Regions from separate parts of the Homo sapiens genome. Here all the other regions are linked to region 1. Evidence: fine-mapped expression QTL. A gene starts in region 1. Each other region holds a variant in brackets. All regions are shown on one strand. Distances are between the middles of the regions.

Region 1 (8,527 bases):
AGCAAGACTCTGTCTCAGAAAAGAAAAAAAAATAAAATAAAATAAACCCAGTCTGGAAATTCTATCAGTTCAACTAATGAAGATATAAAGCACCTTCCTATCCAGTTTTCTCCCCTGCCCTGCTCCAAAGCCACTGTCATAGAGAACCAACATAACTGATAAAGAGTATGGTATATGGTATAAATAATGAAAGTAATCTCATATTTGTTTCCAATTGTAACTAGTGTACCATTATGTTCGATTAAGAGGCTAATTGGAATTCTGCATGAAAACATCATTGAAAAAGCACACACCAACCGGATGCAGTGGCTCACGCCTGTAATCCCAGCACTTTGAGAGGCCAAGGCTGGCAGATTGCTGGAGCTCAGGAGTTCAGGCCCACCCTGGGCAACATGGTGAAACCCCATCTCTACTAAAATACAAACAATTAGCCAGGCATGGTGGTGCGCGCCTGTAGTCCCAGCTACTCGGAAGGCTGAGGCACGAGAATCGCTTGAGCTCAGGAGGCGGAGGCTGCAGTGAGCCGAGATCAGGCCACTGCATTCCAGCTTGGGCTACACAGTGAGACTCCATCTCAAAAAAAATTAAAATAAAATAAAGTAAAAAGCCTGGTGGGGTGGCTCACACCTGTAATCCCAGCACTTTGGGAGACTGAGGCAGGTGATCACCTGAGGTCAGATGTTCAAGACCAGCCTGGGCCACATGGTGAAACCCCATCTCTACTAAAATACAAAAAAAGTAGCCAGGTGATGTGGCGCGCCCCTGTAATCCCAGCTACTTGGGAGGCTGAGGTAGGAGAATCGCTTGAACCTGGGAGGCAGAGGCTGCAGTGAGCCGAGATCGCACCACTGCACTCCAGCCTGGGTGACAGAGGAAGACCCTGTCTCAAAAAAAAAAAAAAAAAAAAAGCCAGGCGCAGTGGCTCACACCTGTAATCCTAGCACTTTGGGAGGCCGAGGCGGGCAGATTACGAGGTCAAGAGATCGTGACCATCCTGGCTAACACAGTGAAACTCCATCTCTACTAAAAATACAAAAAATTAGCCAGGTGTGGTGGCACGCGCCTGTAGTCCCAGCTACTCAGGAGGCTGAGGCAGGAGAATCGCTTGAACCCAGGAGGCAGAGGTTGCAGTGAGCTGAGATCACGCCACTGCATTCCAGCCTGGGTGACAGAGCAAGACTGTCTCAAAAACAAAACAAAACAAAAAAACCAGAAAGAAAGAAAAGAAAAGAAAAGAAAAGAAAAAGCACACAACTCAATACCCACTTTCTAAACCGTGTGATTTTGATTTAGTCTTATTTGATTATGAAAAGAACAGTATTGGTCAGGTATGGTGGTTTATGCCTATAATCCCAGCATTTTGGGAGGCCGAGGCTGGTGGATCATTTGAGGTCAGGAGTCCGAGAACAGCCTGGCCAATATGGTGAAACCCTGTCTCTACTAAAAATACAAAAATTAGCCAGATGTGGTGGCGCATGCCTGTAATCCTAGCTACTTGGGAGGCTGAGCCATGACAATCGCTTAAACCCAGGAGGCTGAGATTGCAGTGAGCTGAGATCGCACCATTGCACTCCAGTCTGGGTGATAGAGTGAGACCCAACTCAAAACAAAACAAAAGAAACAAACAAGAAGAACAGTATTATTTTAGGCCACTTAGTTTCTTAAAGTGTTCAAAATTCTTTATATACATCATCTCAATCTTTTGTCAACAGTAGGGCAGGTGCCAGAGGAGAAAAACTGAGGGTGAGGCAAGGGAAAGGAAGCCCCTGTGTAATTAGAGCAAACATCTGACGTCATTAACCCATGTATTCAACTAGACATTGGAATTTAGATGCTAAACTACCAAGAGGTTATCAACTGATGATCATTTGGTCCAGGATCAGTGATTTAGTATGACAACATTTTTGAACTTCAGGTGCAATTTGTCATTTTTTGATAAATTTATCTAGGGAAAAAAAAAGTTATTCCATAAAGATTAACAAACCACTAAGCCAGCAGGGTGAAACCAAGCTATGCATTAGGAAATACAATTCTAAATTTAGCACCCTAAATTACAGCAAGGAAAGCCCTCATACCACCATTCACAAGTCTCTGTTCAGGCAACTTATTTCTGGCAAGCTAAATCAAGGCTGTCAACTGGTTTTTGGTTTTTTTTTCCACCTCAAAATTACATTAATTATTCTGAAAAAAATACAGACATCTTCAACTTGGGGAAAGGTTACAAGTGCCGTGTGTCCTTATAAATGCTTATTTTAAAAAGTCACACGGAAGGGGGTAAAAAAAAAAAAGCAAACAAACAAACCCTGGAAGATTGGAAGATGCAGCAGAGCCCCCTTGCTCCCGAAATAAAACTCCTGGTGGCTGTAACAGCAGCGGCAGTGCTACTCCCGACAGAAGTTTTCAGCTGTCACTTCTAACAGCTGAGCGCTTCCTAGGAGAGAAGCGACAGGCCGAGAAGAGAGGTGGTTGTGGGAGGTCTGAAGATTCAATACTTGAAATTCTAGACTCGAAGGGAAACCCTCCACACTTCGCCTGCACTTACGGGACACCCAGCAAGAGCAGCCCCCGTCTCCCCAACACACGCTCACGCCACCCGCTCCCCGCCACACTCAAGTCCAACAGCTCGAGGAATCGACCACGCGCCCGTTCTCTTTCCCTCTTCAGATCGCTCGGGGCTGCGCTGACCTGGGGCTAAGGGTGCGACCTGCACCTGCGAGCCCCGCAGAGGCCTCACACCTAGGGCCATGACCGCCCCGCCCGCTCCCCTGTCTCAGGCCGCGCGACCCTCAGCTCCTCAGGAGCCCCCCTGGGTCTCCACGCTCTAGGACACACCGCGCTTCCTGAGCCCGCGCCGCCGCCCCGGCCCTGTCACCTCGGGCCCCCGGGGACCCCGGGCCTCACCCCCTCCTCCAGCTCATCCTCAGAGCCCGCGTCCTCTGGCTGGTCCAGGTCTATGTCAAACACTCCTGCCATGTCCTCAGCTTCCCTGTCTCGGAAGTCCGGGGCTGGGTAAAAGCCGTCCCGCCTCCTTCGTCGCCTCATGGGCCCGGACCCGCCGCAGCCACCACAGCCGCTGCCGCCATCACCGGCTGCTTAGGCTCAGTGCGTCTGCGCCTAGGCCTTAGACTGGCTCCTAAAGTTCAGCGTAGGAGCATGCGTACAGGGTTCCGTGAAGCCAAACAGTGGGCAGTGGACATGCGCAGAACTATCGGCAGGATCCAGGCGCTGGCAGAAACATGCGCAAAACACCAGCCGAAGTCGCGCTTGGAGGACTAGAGCATGCGCATTGTCAGCTGGAGCGTTCGGTGGACAGTGAGCATGCGTACCATATCTGAAGTTCGTAAATTGAAATTGAACATGCGTAATTAATCTTTCTGAATAGGAAAAAATATATACACAACAAAACTCTCCGTTTATGGAACATGCGCATTTGTTCTCAGTAAGTTTTTCGTTTTGAAAGTGAGCATGCGCATGGTGAGTAGGTTGGTCCGAAGTTTGAACCGGACAGAAGCGCTGGTCGGCGTCTGGCGGTGAGTCGGGTTACGTGTGGAGAACTCCTGGGGCCCGTGGGGAACGGGGGACCTTTTGGCTTTGCTCTTTACTAGTTCTGTGGCCTTGGAAAAGTCAATAACCTTTCAGAGCCTCAGTTTCCTTATCTGTAAAATGAGGATAATAATAAACCTACTTTGCCGGTTTGACATTTTAAGCACAGAGTCTGTCTCACAACCCACGGCTCATTTCCAGTGCTGCATAGACCTGATGTGAAGTCTTTATCAAAACTTGTCTTTTCCTAGGTAAAAATAATGAGGAACTGCTCTAATGTTTCTTTTGCTTTCTTTCTTTTTCAAATGGAGACAGGGTCTCGCTGTGTTGCCCAGGCTGGTCTGGAATCCCTGGGCTCAGGTGATCCTCCCGCCTCGGCCTCCCAAAGTACTGGGATTACAGGCATGAGCCATTGCGCCCGGTTAATATTTCATCTGGTTTTCTTTCTCCAAGCTGCATCTTTCTTGCTGTCCTACCTGAGCTAAACACAAAATCTTTCTTACAGGTCTTACTAAAGTTACCAGGCTAGACTAGTGGAGAAAGCGTAAGCTATTATTTAGAAGAGAGAAAATTAATGTTAATTGAATGTACAATGTTGAGCACACTTCTGTGTTCTACATGTTCATGTGGTGTGAAGGGTGGTACTACTAATTTCTTCAATCAGCATTTGTTTTGTCTTGTTTTTATTTTTTTAATTTTAATTTTTTTTTTTTCTGGAGACAGGAGGATGTCACTTTGTCACCCAGGCTGGAGTGCGGTGGCAAGATCTTGGCTCACTGCAGCCTGGACCTCCCAGGCTCAGGGGATCCTCCCACCTCAGCCTCCCGAGTAGCTGGGACTGCAGGCGCACACCACCACGCCAAGCTAATGGTTGTATTTTTTGTACAAACAGGGTTTTGCCATGTTGACCAGGTCTGGAACAGCCAGGCTCACGTGATTCTCCCAACTCAGCCTCCCAAAATGCTGGGATTACAGGTGTGAGCCACGCACCCAGCCTCTTTTTTTCTTTTATCACTCCTCAACTGAGGAGAATGTTTTGTTTTAAACATATGTTTAGGAAAAAAGTGATTACAAATCAGATTTTGGAAACTATTGAGCTGTGTATGAATGGATTCAGGTACAGTAAATCACAAATCCCAAAACCATGTAGAGAGTATGAGAACTTCCTTGAATGACTAGCTCCTTAGACAACACAGCTGTTCTATCTCCAATATTATATACGTATGTGGCATTTTAAAATGACTTTTTGGGCCGGGCGTGGTGGCTCAAGCCTGTAATCCCAGCACTTTGGGAGGCTGAGGTAGGTGGAGGTGGATCACGAGGTCAAGAGTTCAAGACCAACCTGGCCAACATGGTGAAACCCCATCTCTACTAAGAATACAAAAATTAGCCAGGCGTGGTGGCACGTGCCTGTAATCCCAGCTACTCGGGAGGCTGAGGCAGGAGAATCGCTTGAACCTGGGAGGCGGAGGTTGCATTAAGCCGAGAACATGCCACTGCACTCTAGCCTGGGTGACAGAACAAGACTCCGTCTCAGGGGGGAAAAAAGACTTTTTATTGATGTATAATTAACATACATGGCATTTTATTTGTTCTTATTAGTAATGTAGTGGTTCTCAAAGCGTATTTTTTTCGATTACAGGTTGTTTTTAGAGGTAATACACCTAGTTTGTGGCTCAGCATGTCAATTGTAACAGTGCAACTTGGTCAGTGTGGCAATCAGATTGGTTTTGAAGTTTTTGATGCTTTGCTTAGTGACTCACACAGTTCCCAGGGACTCTGCTCTATGAGAGAGAATGAGGCATATCAAGCATCTTGCAAAGAAAGATTCTTCAGTGAGGAGGAGAATGGAGGTAGGTGTGGCCCACAGTCCTCTCCTTTACTCTGATCTAACCAACCCCTTCAAAGCCAGGCCTTCCACATGGTTTTTAAACCCCATTCCTTCCCATCTCACTAGGGAATTACTTTGTTTTTGCTTTTCATTTCTATGTTAATAATCTTTGCTTTTCCAGTGGCATTTTCCCTTCTGCATGCTCAGATCTCACCAATTTAAAACCAACCAAACAAAACTCATCTATTGACTGGCTTTCTTCTTCTTATCTCTTTGCCTTTCATCTAAGATTCTCAAAAGAGGACCCTGCTGGCTGGGCGTGGTGGCTCACGCCTGTAATCCCAGCACTTTGAGAGGCCGAGGCGAGTGGATCACAAGGTCAGGAGTTCAAGACCAGCCTGACCAACATGGTGAAACCCCATCTCTACTAAAAATACAAAAATTAGCTGGGCGTGGTGGCATGTGCCTGTAATCCCAGCTACTCGGGAGGCTGAGGCAGGAGAATCACTTGAACCCAGGAGGCAGAGGTTGCAGTGAGCCGAGACCGCACCACTGCCCTCCAGCCTGGTGACAGAGCGAGACTCCATCTCCAAAAAAAATAAAAGGACCCTGCTTAACCACCTATGATCCTGCTTCTGCCCCACATAGCATCATTGAAGCTGCTCTAAGAAAAGTTTCCAGTGACCTCCGAATCACCAGATCCAACTACTGTTTTTCTTTTCTTTTTTTCTTTTTCTTGTAGAGACAGGTTCTTACTACACTATGTTGCCCAAGCTGGAGTGCGGTGGCTATTCACAGGTCTCCTGAGTAGCTGGGACTGCAGGTGCATGCCACCATGCCTGGCTCTTTCTTTTCTCTGTCTCTCTTTTTTTTTTTTTTTTTTTTGAGAGAGTCTCGCTCTGTCACCCGGGCTGAAGTGCAGTGATGTGATCTTGGCTCACTGTAACCTCCACCTCCCGTGTTCAAGCAATTCTCCTGCCTCAGCCTCCCAAGTAGCTGGAATTACAGGTGCCCACGACCATGTCTGGCTAATTTTTGTATTTTTAGTAGAGACAGGGTTTTGCCATGTTGGCCAGGCTGGTCTCGAATGCCTGATCTCAAGTGATCCGCCTGCCTTGGCCTCCCAAAGTGATGGGATTACAGGCTCTCTTTCTTTTTCTTTTTCTTTTTTTTTTTTTTTTTTTGAGACAGAGTCTAGCTCTGTCACCCAGACTGGAGTGCAGTGGTGCGATCTTGGCTCACTGCAACCTCCGACTACCAGGTTGAAGCAATTCTCCTGCCTCAGCCTCATGAGTAGCTGGGACTACAGGCATGCGCCACCACGCCCAACTAATTTTTTTGTATTTTTAGTAGAGATGGGGTTTTACCATGTTGGTCAGGCTGGTCTCGAACTCCTGACCTCAAATGATCTGCCCACCTCAGCTTCCCAAAGTGCTGGGATTACAGGCGTGAGCCACTGTGCCCAGCCTCTCTTTCTTTTCTTAATTCACTTTACTCCTCTACTGCGTTTGATAACAGTAACGTATAAAAACTCTTTCCAGCAGGGCGCAGTGGCTCACGCCTATAATCCCAGCACTTTGGGAGGCCAAGGCAGGCAGATCACTTGAGGTCAGGAGTTAGAGACCAGCCTGGCCAACAGGGTAAAACCCCGTCTCGACTAAAAATACAAAAATTAGCCGGACATGGTGGCACATACCTGTAATCCCAGTTATTCGGGAGGGTGAGGCAGGAGAATCACTTGAACCCGGGAGGGGGGTTGCAGTGAGCCGAGATCTCGCCACTGCACTCCAGCCTGGGAAATAGAGCGAGATGCCGTCTCAAAAAAAAAAAAAAAAAAAAAAAGCCAGGCATGGTGGCTCATCCCTGTAATCCCAACACTTTGGGAGGCCGAGGTGGGTGAATCACCTGAGGTCAGGAGTTCGAGACCAGCCTGGCCAACGTGGTGAAACCCCATCTGTACTAAAAATACAAAAATTAGCCGAGCGTAGTGGTGCGTGCCTGTAATCCCAGCTACTTGGGAGGCTGAGGCAGGAGAATCGCTTGAACCCGGGAGTCGGAGAGTGTGCCATTGTACTCCAGCCTAGGTGACAAGAGCGAAACTCCGTCTCAAAAAAGAAAAAAAAAAGACAAAAAACAACTCTCTCCTTGAACCTCCTTCTCCTAGTCACCCCACTTTTCTTCTCCAGTTGTTGCATCTCCCCTGTCCTCACTTGCATAGTTCTCTCTGGGCAACTTCACTGTCATAGTTTGCTACATTTATTACACCTGTGACTTTCAGACCTCTAGCCCAGCCTCTCTTAAAAGCTCTAGACAGATTAGTGGATATCTCCACCCACATCTCTCATATGAACCTGAAACTCAACATCTCTATTCCCAAGGCATTCATTATTGTTCCTTGTGCTCTTGCTGCATACATACCATCAAACAAGATCTGCTTATTTGACCTCCTATATACTCCTTGAAACTGTTCTTCCCTTTCCACCTTCACTGACTTGCTTTAGTCTGGCTTTTGTTCTTTCTTACCTGGACTGTCTCAAGACACTCCTTTTAGGATTCCTTGCCTGGAGTCTACTGTCTATCACATCCATCCTCCGTACTGCTGTGTTTAAAAAGACATCGGCCGGGTGCAGTGGCTCATGCCTATAATCCCAGCACTTTGGGAGGTCGAGGCGGGCGAATCATGAGGTCAGGAGATCGAGACCATCCTGGCTAACACAGTAAAATCCCGTCTCTACTAAAAATACAAAAAAATTAGCCAGGCGTGGTGGCGGGTGCCTGTAGTCCCAGCTACTTGGGATGCTGAGGCAGGAGAATGGCGTGAACCCAGGAGGCGGAGCTTGCAGTGAGCTGAGATCGCACCACTGCACTCCAGCCTGCGGGACAGAGCGAGACTCCATCTCAAAAAAAAAAAAAAGACATCTAACAGCTGGGCACAGTGTCTCACTGTAATTCCAGTGTTTTGGGAGACCAAGGTGGGAGGATTGCTTGAGGCCAGGAATTCAAGACCAGCCTGGGCAATAGAGCAAGATTCTGTCTCTAGAAAAAAAAACAATAAAAATTAGTTAGGTGTAATGGCACACACCTGAAGTCCCAGCTACTTAGAAGGCCAAAGTGGGAGGATTGCTTGAGCTCAAGAGTTTGAGGCTGCAGTGA
Region 2 (5,000 bases), 530 kb after region 1:
GCTAAGATCGTGCCATTGCACTCCAGCCTGGGTGATAGAGCGAGACTCTGTCTCAAAAAAAAAAAAAAAAAAAAAAAGACACAGAGGGATTACTTAATGTACACAGCTACTAAATGAATAAGCCAGGTGGTTGGGCTCGGAGTTATACCACGAGCTGCTATGTTATATGGCCTCATATCATCTTATGCTACTACATTAGACTCAGAAGACGCAGGGGGGAAGTAGAAGGAACTTTAAAGACAGTCTAACCTATTGCACTCATTTGGATAAATGAAGAAAAGGGAGAGCCAGAGAGATGAACAGTCTTGCCCAAGATCACAGCGCTTGACACTGTCAATCTTCCAGATGCCAGCCCTCTCCCAGGGCTATGTGCACCAGCTATGTGCAAAGTGGTGTGTCGGGGGAGGTGGCAAAGTGCAAAATCAAGAGGCCCTCAGTTTCTCTCTGGGCCTTGGTTTCCTAATCTGTAAAATGAGGAGTTGAACTAGAAACTCCAGGTTCAAAGGTACCTCCAGCCACAAAGTTCTGAGCATCTATGACTCCAGGACATTGAGAATCTTGTTAGGAAGCAAGACAATTATACATAAAAAGTGCACGCAACCATAACAACACAGACCATACCACAAGACAGTCATTAATTTCCAAATGAACAACCAGAGAGTGAGTTCTACAGACATTCAGAGCATCCTATAAGCCAGGAAGACTCACTAGAAGAAAAAAAGATGTGAACTGGTCTTCAAGAATGGGTAGGAACTGAATAGAGAGAGAGGAAAGGAGAAGGATTCACCAAGGCAAAGGAAATGACAGGAGGGAAGAAAGGGTGGGATTTGCCACAAGGATTACTGAGTAAGACCATAAAATAGGCAAGGCCAAAAGAACCTAGGCCACACTGCGAAGCGGTAGCAAAAAGTACATGAGCAGATCTGAATCTGAACCCATCTGGCTTCTTGGTAACCTGGTAACCTATGGCCTTAATCCCCACATTGAAAGGATGTTGTAAAATAAGTGATGGAGTAAGTAAAATACCTAAAGGAGTTCCTGGCACACAGTAGGTGCTCAATAAAGAGGAAAGTGTTCAGCTGGGTGCGGCGGCTCATGCCTGTAATCCCAGCATTTTGGGAGGCTGAGGCAGGTGGATCACTTGAGGTCAGGTCAGGAGTTCGAGAGCAGCCTGGCCAACATGGTGAAACCACACCTTTACTAAAAATACAAAAATTAGCCGGGCCTGGTGGCGGATGCCTGTAATCCCAGCTACTTGGGAGGCTGAGGCAGGAGAATTGCTCGAACCCAAAAGGCGGAGGCTGCAGTGAGCAGAGATCACGCCACTGCACTGCAGCTTGGGCAACGGAGTGGGACTCCATCTCAAAAAAAAAAAAAAGAAAAAAAAAAAGGGTAAGTCTTTAGGACCAGTGTGGTGGCTCACCTGTAATCCCAACACTTTGGGATGCTGAGGTGGGAAGTCTGCTTGAGGTCAGGAGTTTGAGACCAGTCTAGGCAACATAGCGAGACCCTGTCTCTCTCTCTCTCTATATATATATCTATATATACATAGAAACTAAGAAGGTGTTCAATCAATAGTAGCTAATAGCAGCAACATAGATTTTCCATCTTGTGTGTTTGTTACAACACCAAACAACCTTATCTGTAACATTCTTCTACCCTCCATGGTGAGCCTTGCATTCCCTTGTTTCCTAAACATCACAGGCTCTTTAAGTGCAGGAATCATCTTATCCCTACCATCTAGGTTTAAATGTTGTTTAAAGCACAAGAAATATTGAACTGAACAAGTAGTGTATGACAGTGGATTCTAGTCAGCCCCCAAACGCAAACAGCCAAGCTAGCAATGGTGCAGATTTACCATTCCAGAGGCCAGAGGGAGTGCCACTGCTCAAACAGAAACAGAGGGATCCTGCACCCACTCCTTGCTTCCCAGGTTGAACACCCTGATGAAAAAGAGTTTCTTTGGATTTCTGACTGGGAACACAAGCTTGATTACCAGTGTCCCTGCTGAGAGCCTAGA[C/T]GCTAATATACAAACCAGTCTTATGATTGGAACCTTAAAGGCATCTGCAAACCACAGAGTTAATTTTCAGGGTACGCCTCATCGCTCAAGTCAACATTTCCTTTTGGTATTTAAAGTAACCACACAGAAAGAATCACATTTGAGCAGATTTTGTGCTCCAGCTGCCTGCAGTCTGCAGCAAAAGAAAAACAAAACATAAAGATGATTCACCAGATTTGGTCCCAGCAGCTCCCTTGATACTAAATTGGTGAGCAACTCTATGTGTGCCCAGATCATTAATTTTCACAGGGAGCAGGCGTGACTGTGCGACAGGTCTGCCTCCCATTTAAAGCATGTGACTTCCTGAACCCAATTCCCCTTGTCCATGCCTACACATGATAAACACAATTAAAAAAAAAAAAAAACCATAGAATGCTTCTATTTCTTTGCCAAGCAGTGGTCAATGAGTATTTGCTGAATGACCACCATGTACCTGGAACACATTCGGACCACTGCAATGGACAGACACCACTTGCCCCATTCTAGTCTCTTCCTCACTAGTTCATCTACCACACCACAGCAGCACTAACCATTTGCTGGTCATGTCATTACTTGCTTAAAAGTCTTCAGTAGCAACCAACTGTCAATGGGACAACATCCTAGCTTCTATTCTTCTAATAATCTGGCTTCTACCTACACCTTTAATGTTTTCACAGTTTTTCAACCTCTACCCCAAAGAACGGCTGCTCCCTGTGTGCTCCCTGCCTCTGGCTCTTTGTTCCTGATGCTCCTTTTACCAGCTCCTCCCCATCATTTGAGGCTTCTGCTTCCAGGCACACTTCAATGCCACTTCTTCCACCAAGTCTTCCCAGAACTGCATTTTCTAGAAAGATGGATCTTAAAGTTTGGTTGTGTGTGTGTTTTTTTCCTTTTTTAACCAACAGTATCTTTGGTGGAGAGCCTGATGAAAGCCATGAAACCCTCTCTAGAAAAATATACATGCCCACAGAATGACACATGCAATTTCATGGAGTCCTTGAAGCCAGTCCACGGACCCAGATTGAAACTCACTGATAAAGATCTCTATCTGAGTAATAAGTCATTCACTCAAATATTCACTGAGAATCTACCAGTCTTAGGAGCTGTGCTGCTGCTAGAGACACAAAAACGATGTCACAATCATCTCCTCAAGTAATTCACAGGCTAATGGGAAACATGCGTCATCACACTGTGATAACTGCTTTAAGAGAAACATAAGATGAAGTAGAAACTTCAAGAAGGCATAACATGAATCTATTATCTCCCAAACTAGGATAAAAGTTCCCTGACAAAATTTTTGAGTAGTATTATAATATCTAGAATAGTGCTATGTGCATGCACGCGCACACACACACAGAGTACGTAATTAGTATTTGTGCAAAGACAGAATGGAATCAATAAGATGATAAGAGCAAGTATAGGCACAGTCCCCACTGCCGTCACCCACATACACCAGAAACTCTTCAGATATAGTTAAAATGGTCCCACTGTGGACCAACCGTGCTATACAAATTATCCCAAGCTGCGTGCGGTGGCTCACATCTGTAATCCCAGCACTTTGGCAGGCAGAGGCAGGTGGATTGCTTGAGGTCAGGAGGTCGAGACCAGGCTGGCCAACACAGTGAAACCTCATCTCTACTAAAAATACAAAAATTATCTGGGCATGGTGATGCACACCTGTAATCCCAGTTACTCAGGTGGCTGAGGCACGAGAATTGCTTGAACCCGGGAGGCAGAGATTGCAGTGAGCCAAGATTGCACCACTGCACTCCAGCCTGGGTGACAGAGTGAGACTTTATATCAAAAAAAGAGAAAAAAAATCCCAGCCTAATTCATGGCTCTTTTCATCCTGAACGGGTTCAATCTCTGCCCCTATGGAGGAAAGGTACCATAAGATACTATATACTTTACACGAGCCCCAAATAGTTTCTTTTCACCAAGAAACACTGTAAAGTAACCACATCCCTTTGTTTGGAGACTTTCTGTACAGATTTGATTCACCTGCCACCCCTTCCTGGGTGGTCAACAGATACTTCTAGAGGAGTACAAAAGAGCCAATGCTTCATTAGTAGGAGACAGAGCTTTCAAAGGTCACATAGTTGAAGAAAATAATTAAGTAATTTGGGGTTGGGAAATGTGATTCTCTTTATAAAAGCCAACTTGGTAGAGCATGTCTTGCAACTGGACTTATTGGGTTGTGCTGGAACTCTTCCCTAATTTGTCACTTCTGCCTTGGCTGTAGCTTAGAAGTGATGTCTAAGAATCACTAACACGGCCGGGCGCAGTGGCTCACGTCTGTAATCCCAGCACTCTGGGAGGCCGAGGCAGGCAGATAACTTGAAGTCAGGGGTTCAAGACCATCCTGGCCAACACGGTGAAACCCGTCTCTACTAAAAAAGTACAAAAAATTAGCCGGGCGTGGTGGCGGGTGCCTGTAGTCCCAGCTACTCGGGAGGCTGAGGCAGGAGAATGGCGTGAACCCGGGAAGCGGAGCTTGCAGTGAGCCAAGATCGTGCCACTGCACTCCAGCCTGGGCAACAGTGCAAGATTCCGTCTCAAAAAAATAAATAAATAAAATTTAAAAATTACCTGGGTGTGGTGGCGCATGCCTGTAATCCCAGCTACTCAGAAGGCTGAGGCAGGAGAGTCTCTTGAACTCAGGAGGCGGAGGTTGCAGTGAGCCGAGATCGCACCACTGCACTCCAGCCTGGGCAACAGAGTGAGACTCCGTCTCAAAAAAATAAATAAAAAAGAAACACTGACATTCAACAGCAAAGTGGCAGAGGCACCCACTAGAGCTCAGGCCATACAGAGCAGTTGTTCCCACCCTTCTGTTTCTTAGTACCACTGCTCTGGCAAAGAGCCAGGTCCCACTATTCTAGAAACAAAAGGTTTACTTTTTGAGATAGACATTTATGCCTGCAATCTGATTTTTCCCTCCTCTTAAAACATACTCGAATTT
Region 3 (8,527 bases), 130 kb after region 1:
TATTTCCTTTCCCTTATAATTTTCTTTGTAATATGGTATACAATACTGTATTAACACATACAAAATATGTGTTAATCTACTATTTATCATTAAGGCTTCCGTTCAACAGTAGGCTATTAGCAGTTAAGTTTTTGGGGAGTCAAAAGTTATATGTGGATTTCCTACTGCACAGGGGGTTGGCACCCCTAACCCACACATGGTTCAAGGCTCAACTGTGGTTCCATCATCTGTACTCCCTTGCCCTGCTGGAGTCTACTTGGCCTCAGTTGCTTTGTGATACATATGGTTCATGCCTTTCTTCTCAATGCCATTCATGAATAGGAGATGCTCTAAAAGGTTTCTTTTGCCTTGGAAGTAGGTAGCTGGTTACTGACTGAATCATTTACTGACAAGGAATATGTTTAGATTCCATTTCAATAAGGTACACACACTATCAAGATGGTGAGGTTAGTTTTAAACAAATATGAAAATGCATATCTTACCCACATGCAGGCTTCAATCCTAACTTTTGAGATGATACTCCACAAAGAAATGGTTCCTTCAGTGCCCTCTTCATCTGGACAAATAATCTGATCAGGATAGGGTGGTTCGGGAAAATTAACTGAATTGCATTCATAAGCAGCTAATGTAACTGAGGCTATATGTGGACCCTATAAAACAAATACAAGAAACTTCTGATAAGAACTATTAAAAAATTATCAATACACATTATTTTAAAAATATATTAATTACTGTGTAAGAAAAATCTTAGCTTTCAAAGAACAAAAATAATTCTAAATAATTTCAAGATGCAGTTAGTAATATGAAGAAAATAATCCTTCCCAGAATCTCTTCCTGGTTGACTTAAAAAAAAATCAGATTTATTGAGGTAAAATTTACACATAATGAGTCACTTATTTGAGGTCTACATTTCAATTAGCTTTGACGAACATATTCAGCCATATAACCACACCAATCAAGATACAGAACATTTCCATTACTGCAAAAATGATCCCTTGGCCAGGCACAGCAGCTCATGCCTGTATTCCCACCACTTTGGGCGGCTGAGCCAGGATGACTGCTTGAAGCCAGGAGTTCAAGACCAGCCTGGGCTACAAAGCAAGACCTCATCTCTACAAAAATTTAAAAAATTAGCCATGCATTGTGGCATGTGCCTGTAGTCCCAGCTACTCAGGAGGTAGGAGGCATTGCTTGAGCCCAGGTGTTGGAGGCTGTAGTGGGCTATGATTGTGCCACTGCACTCCAGTCTGGACAACGGAACAAGGCCCCATCCCTTATAAAAAAAAATCCCTTGTGTTCCTCTGTGGCCAATTCCCTCCCTCAAGTCCTAGTCCCCGGCAACCACTGATCTAATTCCTTGCTTGACTTTTATTTTATTTATCTATATTTCTCATTTGTTAGATAATTCCTTTTATTAAAAAAAACTTCCTGAGCCACTGTTCTTTTAGGCACAATTTGAGAATATCACTTTACGTCCTTACTTAAAAACAGCTGGTGATCTACCACCTCATGTAACCTTTCCCAGTGAGATCATAAAGCAAAAATGTAACTGTGAAACCAGTATCAATGAGTTTTACACAATGGTTCCTAAAAGCACAAGATGAGGTGTCTGCATACTAGGGAGTTGGTTAAAATATAAATTCCTGGGTCCCTTAAGCATAGGTTGATAGATGTCCTCTAGCATACAGTAACTAGCAGCCATCAGCTATTATGAAGATAAATACTTTATTTGTAGAATAAAATTATTTACATATATATACACGAGATTTTATTACTAATTATATTGTGCAAGTATTTCTGAATCTGAAGGTTTCTATTAAAGATTTCTCCAATGATTTTTCATAAATGAGACAGTCCCACAGAAAAGTAAGTGGGCTCTGTGTATAAGAAAGTATTTTAAGATCACTTGATGAAAGAATCTGTGGTTCAAAGTACATAAAATCTAGTGATAAAAATAAAACTAAGACATTCTACTATCAAGATAATAAAATTTTGTTTGATGTTAATATACAAAGTTGTTCACACATATGTGATATTTATCTCTAAATAGAATCGGCATTTTCTGTTAAAATAATACCTAAAAAATGAAATCCTTGGAACTGAATCAGTTAATTATTAGTTTTTTCTGGATCAAAAAAATCGATGTGAAGTTTTAGCCTTTGTTCCTCTTTTTGGGGACTTTTAATTCTTGGAAATGCAGAAATATTAAAGTATTAAAATAATTATATAAGATTTTGAAAATACTTTGACTACTTAGGTTTTTGAAAACTTATGATTAACCATGAAATCTACAATCATTTCTTTAAATGCCAGGTGCACACAAGAGATTTCACACTTGGGGGAAAAAAGAATTATTTTGTGATACTACAAAAAAACCCCAAAGTTTGTGATATTCAGAATAACTGCATAGTTTGTGAAACATTTCTCCTCATACAATTATAGCTATCAGACATAATTAAAAAAAAAAGAAGAAATCAGCTGTAACTTCCACCTTTACTATTAGAAAACACAAAAGAGACATATGAATGCCAATAAGTGAAAAAGAAGAAAATTTAAGAGTTTGTCCATGCTGTCCCCATGTTACTGTCCTCTTTGGCTACAGGTAGTCTACAGCTAAAGTTAGAAATGAATTTCAAGTGAACAAAAATAAATTGCTCTGGGAGCTAAAATAATGAGATTTCTGGGATAGATAGGAAAGAAAAAGCTATATTTGCATTCCAGAAATATAAAAAATGTATCCTAACAGATTAAACACATTATCCAATAAAATAAAAGTTCTTTATAGTTTTCATTTTTAGTTATTCTGAAAAGGGAAATTTTCAACAATCTGATTTGAGAATGTTTTTTCAAGTCTCTGATTTGAGAATTCTTTCTTCTAAAGAAGTCTGTTCATTCACTCAACTAAACTGACATATATTTTCCATAACCACACTAGTAAGTCATGATTACTCAGCCTTTGAGGCAGATGTGGTGGTTCCCAGACAAAATGAACATTAACAACTCAGTTTCTTGTCCTTTGTTCATAGTTTAAACTATATTAAGTGATAGGAAACCTCACAAGTTCTATTCAACATTTTAGCTTAATGGTTTTTAAATATAACCGATTTGAATGAAAAAATATGTTTATATGAAAAATTCAAATAAAAAAATTTTTGATTAAAAGTTTTAAAAGTTACACATAATTCAAACTACTTTTAAAGTATATTTTCTAAAAACTACAAGTCTCACTACAATGTAGCAAATATGAGTCACATTTTTAACCATACTAAACAAAGAAACAAGAGGGTAAAGACCCAAACAGCTATAGTATTAATTGAAAAGCCTAACTGGATAAAACCTGCCACAGGATATAAAATTTATATATTTACTGAGCAGCAGGTTCCAACTCTTGTGGGAGCATGGGTTAGGGATCCTGGTCTATGGCTGAAGGTTTTCTGTCTCACGGCGGATGAAGTAACGGATACTAGACTTTCATTTCTATAGCAAACAATTAGAAAACTGGACAAAATATATGGGACAATTCTTTTTAGACATTGTACTACAGGCAGTACAGGGCTTTGATTACTAAGAGAAGGGATAAAAATGAAGAAACCATACATTGACTCTGGCTTCTTGTCTGTAGACACATTCCATGCCTGCCAAAAATTCCATGGTCAAAAGAGCAAGAGCCCAAACAAAGCATGTTGCTCCTGCCGAGTTGAGAATGAGATTGGGGTTCACGAGTTCAGGATTCAAGAAGGCTGAGGCAGTCAGAATTTATGAGGCAGTATACCAGAAAAGAGAAAGCTACACAGAGAAGGAACTCTAGAAATCTGCACAGGGGTCCCCTTCAGACTCTGGCACACAAAGCTGCATTGCATGCTAAGGTGAGACCACAAGTCCAGGCAAAGAACTACAAGAACTACTGGGAAAAGAATAATTACTGGGGATTTGTAAACTGACCAATTCCCAGAGTTCACACAGGCCTGGGAAACATTTGTGATCAACCAGCTAGAGTAGAGAGACTCAGCATTCAACCCAGAAAGGTCATGCCTGGGTAGGTACGACCTTTCCTTCTGGTCCTAAGGTGAAAGCTACTCTAGTCTGACCCTAACAGGGTTTAAAACAAGTCTTAAAAAGATCAAGCTGATCCACAGGTAACTTAATTGTCCCCTTCACCCTCCCCCCACATCAATGTTCTATAGTGGAAGACAAAATCCATACAATCAACAATTTAATACTACATATCTAGCATTCAATTAAAAATTACTAGCACTCAATATAATATTACTAGATATGCGAAGCAGCAAATTATAACTCATAACCAAAAGAAATATTGCTCAATAGAAACAGACCCAGATTTGATGAAAAGTATCAATCCACAGACTTAAGAAACTGAACAAATCCAGTCAGGATCGACACAAAGAAAATAAAACACATGGGCTGGGTGCGGTGGCTCACGCCTGTAATCCCAGCACTTTGGGAGGCCAAGGTGGGTGGATCATGAGGTCAGGAGTTCGAGACTAGCCTGGCCAACATGGTGAAACCTGTCTCTACTAAAAATACAAAAAATTAGCCGGGCATGGTGGCAAGTGCCTATAATCCCAGCTACTGGGGAGGCTGGGGCAGGAGAATCGCTTGAACCCAGGAGGCAGAGGGTGCGGTGAGCTGAGATCTCAACACTGCATGCCAGCACAAAAAAGAAAAGAAAAGAAAACATATAGGCCGGGCATGGTGGCTCACGCCTGTAATCCCAGCGCTTTGGGAGGCCAAGGTGGGTGGATCATGAGGTCAGGAGATTGAGACCATCCTGGCTAACATGGTGAAACCCCATCCCTACTAAAAATACAAAAATTAGCTGGGTATGGTGGTGCGCACCTGTAATCCCAGCTACTCGGGAGGCTGAGGCAGGGGAATGGCTTGAATCCGGGAGGCGGAGATTGCAGTGAGCCGAGATTGCGCCACTGCACTCCAGCCTGACGTCAGAGCAAGATGCCATCTCAAAAAAAGAAAAAAGAAAATAGAAAATAAAACATAATCAAACTGCTAAAAATCATCACAATCATGTCATAATGAAATTGCTATAATTCAATGACAAGAGGAAAAGTCTTAAAAACAATA[G/A]AGTAGATAAAAATAAAACATCTACAGGGAAAAATAGGTCAGACTTTTCATCAGAAATAATGCAAACCACAGGACATCAGAATTACTTCTTTAAAATGTCAAAGAAAAAAATACCTGTGAATCTGGGAGCTAGGGAAAATATATTTCAAAAAAATATATTTCAAAACAGTACTGTGGATTTACGACATATGAGGAAGTAAAATATACAAGAAGTAAAATGTATGACAACTAAAGCATAAATTATAAATTATGGGAGGAGGAAATGAAGAACACTATTATAAGGTTGTTATATTTTATACAAAATGAGAAAACAATACTTCATTGTTCACCCTGTAAGTTAATGGAGCATATTGCAAACCTTAGGACAACCACTAATTTTTTTTTTCTTTTTTTTTTTTGAGAAAGGGTCCTACCCTGTTGCCCAGGCTGGAGGGCAGTAGTGTGATCACAGCTCAGTGGAGTCTTGACTGCCCAGGCTCATGAGATTCTACCTCAGCCTCCCGAGTAGCTGGGACCACAGGCATGCATCACTACACCTAGCTATACCACTAAAAATTTTAAAAGAAGTAGAACAAACAAGCAAATAAATTCAATACCAAAAAAAAAAAAAAAAAAAACACCAAAAAACAAAACAAAACAAAACAAAACAAAAAAATCCTCAGTCCAAAAGAAGGCAGAGAAAAAAGAAAAAGGAATGAAAAATTAGATATGACAAACAGTTTGAGGGTAGACTTAAACCCAATCATATTGATAACTACATTAATTGCAAATGGACCAAATGTATAAATTCAGGCAGACACTGTCACACTGGATTAGTACACGCTGTCTATAAGAAACCCACTTTAAATATTAAGAACCCAGAAAAGAAAGAGTAAAGAAATGGGAAAAGAAAAACCATTTAAAAAATCCATAAAAAAGATAAAGTAGCTAAATTGATATTAGACAAAGTAGATTTAATGACAAAGAATATTAACAGAGATTCATAGGAACAAATGATAAAAGGTCTAATTCTCAGGAAGTCAGACCAATTCTAAATGTGTATACAACCAATAACAGAGTGTGAAAATACATAAAGCAAAAACTGACAGAACACAGAAATGAACAAATCCCCAATTATAGCTAGAAATTTCTTTATTTTATTTTTTTTGAGACAGAGTCTCACTCTGTTGCCCAGGCTGGAGTGCAATGGCACGATCCTGGCTCACTGCAACCTTCGCCTCTGGGGTTCAAGCAATTCTCCTGCCTCAGCCTCCCAAGTAGCTGGGGTTACAGGCACCCGCCACCACACCCAGCTAATTTTTGTATTTTTGGTAGAGATGTGGTTTCACCATGTTGGTCAGGCTGGTTTTGAACTCCTGACCTCAGGTGATCCACCCAACTGGGACTGCTGGCGCAAGATACCACAACCAACTAATTTTGTTGTTGTTGTTGTTGAGACAGGGTCTCTCATTCCATCACCCAAACTGGAGTGCAGTGGCAAGATCTTGGCTCACTGCAGCCTCAACCTCTAGAGTTCTGGTGATCTTCCCACCTCAGCCTCCTGGGTAGCTGGGACTACAGGTGTACACCACCACGCCTGGCTAATTTTTTGTAGAGGTGGGGTTTTGCCTGTTGCCCAGGCTGGTCTCTAACTCTTGGGCTCAAGTGATCTACCCACCTCAGTCTCTCAAAGTGCTGGGATTACAGGTGTAAGCCAGAGTGCCCAGCCCAGCTAATTTTTTTTCATTATTTGTAGACAGGTCTCCCTGTGTTGCTTAAACTCCTAGGCTCAGGGGATCCTCCTACCAACACCTCCCAAAGTGCTGGCATTACAGGTGTGAGCCGGCGCACCTGGCCCAGATAATTTTTTTTTTGTTATTTTTAGAGATGGGTCCCCCTATGTTGCCCAGGCTAGTCTCAAACTCCTGGGCTCAAGAGATTCTCCCAACAAGGCCTCCCAAAGTGCTGGGATTACTGGTGTGAGCCACCACACCTGGCCCCATCTAATTTTTCTATTTTTTGTAGAGACAGGGTCTGCCTATGTTGTCCAGGCTGGTCTCAAACTCAGTTCAAGGGATCCTCCTGCCTTGGCCTCCCAAAGTACTGGGATTAGAGGTGAGCCACCATGCCTGGCACATACATAGTTGAAAACGTCAACATCTATATTTCATTAATTGATAGAACAACTACACTGATAATTGTATGGACACAGAAGATTTGAATAACATAGAAAATACCACCCAGCAAGAGCCAAATATATATTATTTTCAAGTACACATGGAATATTTGCCAAGACAGACCATCTGCTGTGCTATAAAATGAGTGTGAACACATTTAAAAGGATGTGACATGTGGCAAGGTAAAGATCAATACAGGGAGTACATCTTAAAGTGGCAAATAGGCAAGGCAGGGTGGCTCATGTCTGTATTCTCAGCACTTTGGGAGGCTGAGGCGGGACACTCACTGGAGCCCAGGAGTTTTGAGACCAGCCTGGGTAACATGGAGAGACCCTCTCTCTCAAAACAAAACAAAAAATTAGCTGGGTATGGTGGTGTGCACCTGTAGTCCCAGTGAAGTGGAAGGATTGCTTGAGCCTGGGAGTTCAAGGTTGCTGTGAGCTGAGATCACGCCACTGTGACAGAATGAGACCCTGTCTTAAAAAAAAAAAAAAAAAAAAAAAAAGTGGCAAATAAAGGTCTGTTTTATTTTTGGTAACTCAGTATAGTTATTCTAGACGAAGTTAAATCAACAAGATAGCTTGGTTATTTGCAACATATTGGACATCTGGATTTGCTTCATTTCAGAGTTCCATATATCTAGTCTCATGAGCTGTATTACATTATATTTTCCAAAGATTGGTAATGGAATAATTTTGCCTTGTCCAGGATAAAAGATGTAGTGCTTGGCCAGGCAGGAGTATGTCTGGGTGAGAGCAAACTATACTTAGATGAAAGGGTAAGATTTCTAGTAAGAGCAGATGTAGGTACTTGTCTGTGGAAAAAGATATTTTATCTTTTAAAAACTCTTTTTACATAAGTTTAAAAAGTTACATTTCCATGATTTACATTCTTTCATGAGTTTTAGTGATTAGAAAAGTTTTAGTGATTAGAAAAAAACCAAACTAATTCTATGTAATCAATTTTTACTCTAGCTTTAAGAATAACAATACACTACTAGTTCTTCTAATTAAGAGAAACTTAGAATTCAAAAAAAATTGTCCTAGAAGGGTAAAATTATACAAAACCACATCTATCTATCTATCTATCTATCTATCTATCTATCTATCTATCTATCTATCTATCTCCATCCTAATCTGGTAGTGAAGAGTTTTAAGTAGTTTTCTGATAATAATATAGTATCTATGTTAAGCCCAGAGAAAGAAATCCTTGTGCCACAAACACTAATTAGGGTCATAGTAAGAAAGGGGTGAATATATTCATACTTGAAT

Evidence for each region. PIP is the estimated chance that this variant, and not a neighbour inherited with it, causes the effect.
Region 2: its variant is the best candidate, but not a certain one, in a credible set for the expression of TUBD1 in skeletal muscle (FUSION, PIP 0.67).
Region 3: its variant is the best candidate, but not a certain one, in a credible set for the expression of TUBD1 in lung (TOPMed, PIP 0.76).

The regions. Positions count from the first base shown.
Region 1 is chr17:59,887,700-59,896,226 of GRCh38, reverse strand. It overlaps TUBD1 (tubulin delta 1), which reads left to right and starts at 3,284. Exons shown (of 9, transcript NM_016261.4): 1 at 3,284-3,530; 2 at 5,186-5,396. The coding sequence starts at 5,225. RPS6KB1 (ribosomal protein S6 kinase B1) reads right to left here and starts at 3,106. Exons shown (of 15, transcript NM_003161.4): 1 at 2,902-3,106. The coding sequence starts at 3,042. RefSeq lists a silencer at 2,689-2,888 and an enhancer at 3,079-3,358.
Region 2 is chr17:59,359,690-59,364,689 of GRCh38, reverse strand. All of the region lies in intron 2 of YPEL2 (yippee like 2), which reads right to left. Among named protein-coding and RNA genes, the nearest start is that of MIR4729, 3.9 kb to the left of the region's middle. The variant C/T (reference allele first, on the strand shown) is at 2,021.
Region 3 is chr17:59,757,094-59,765,620 of GRCh38, reverse strand. It overlaps VMP1 (vacuole membrane protein 1), which reads right to left. Exons shown (of 12, transcript NM_030938.5): 6 at 483-650. Among named protein-coding and RNA genes, the nearest start is that of VMP1, 54 kb to the right of the region's middle. The variant G/A (reference allele first, on the strand shown) is at 5,101.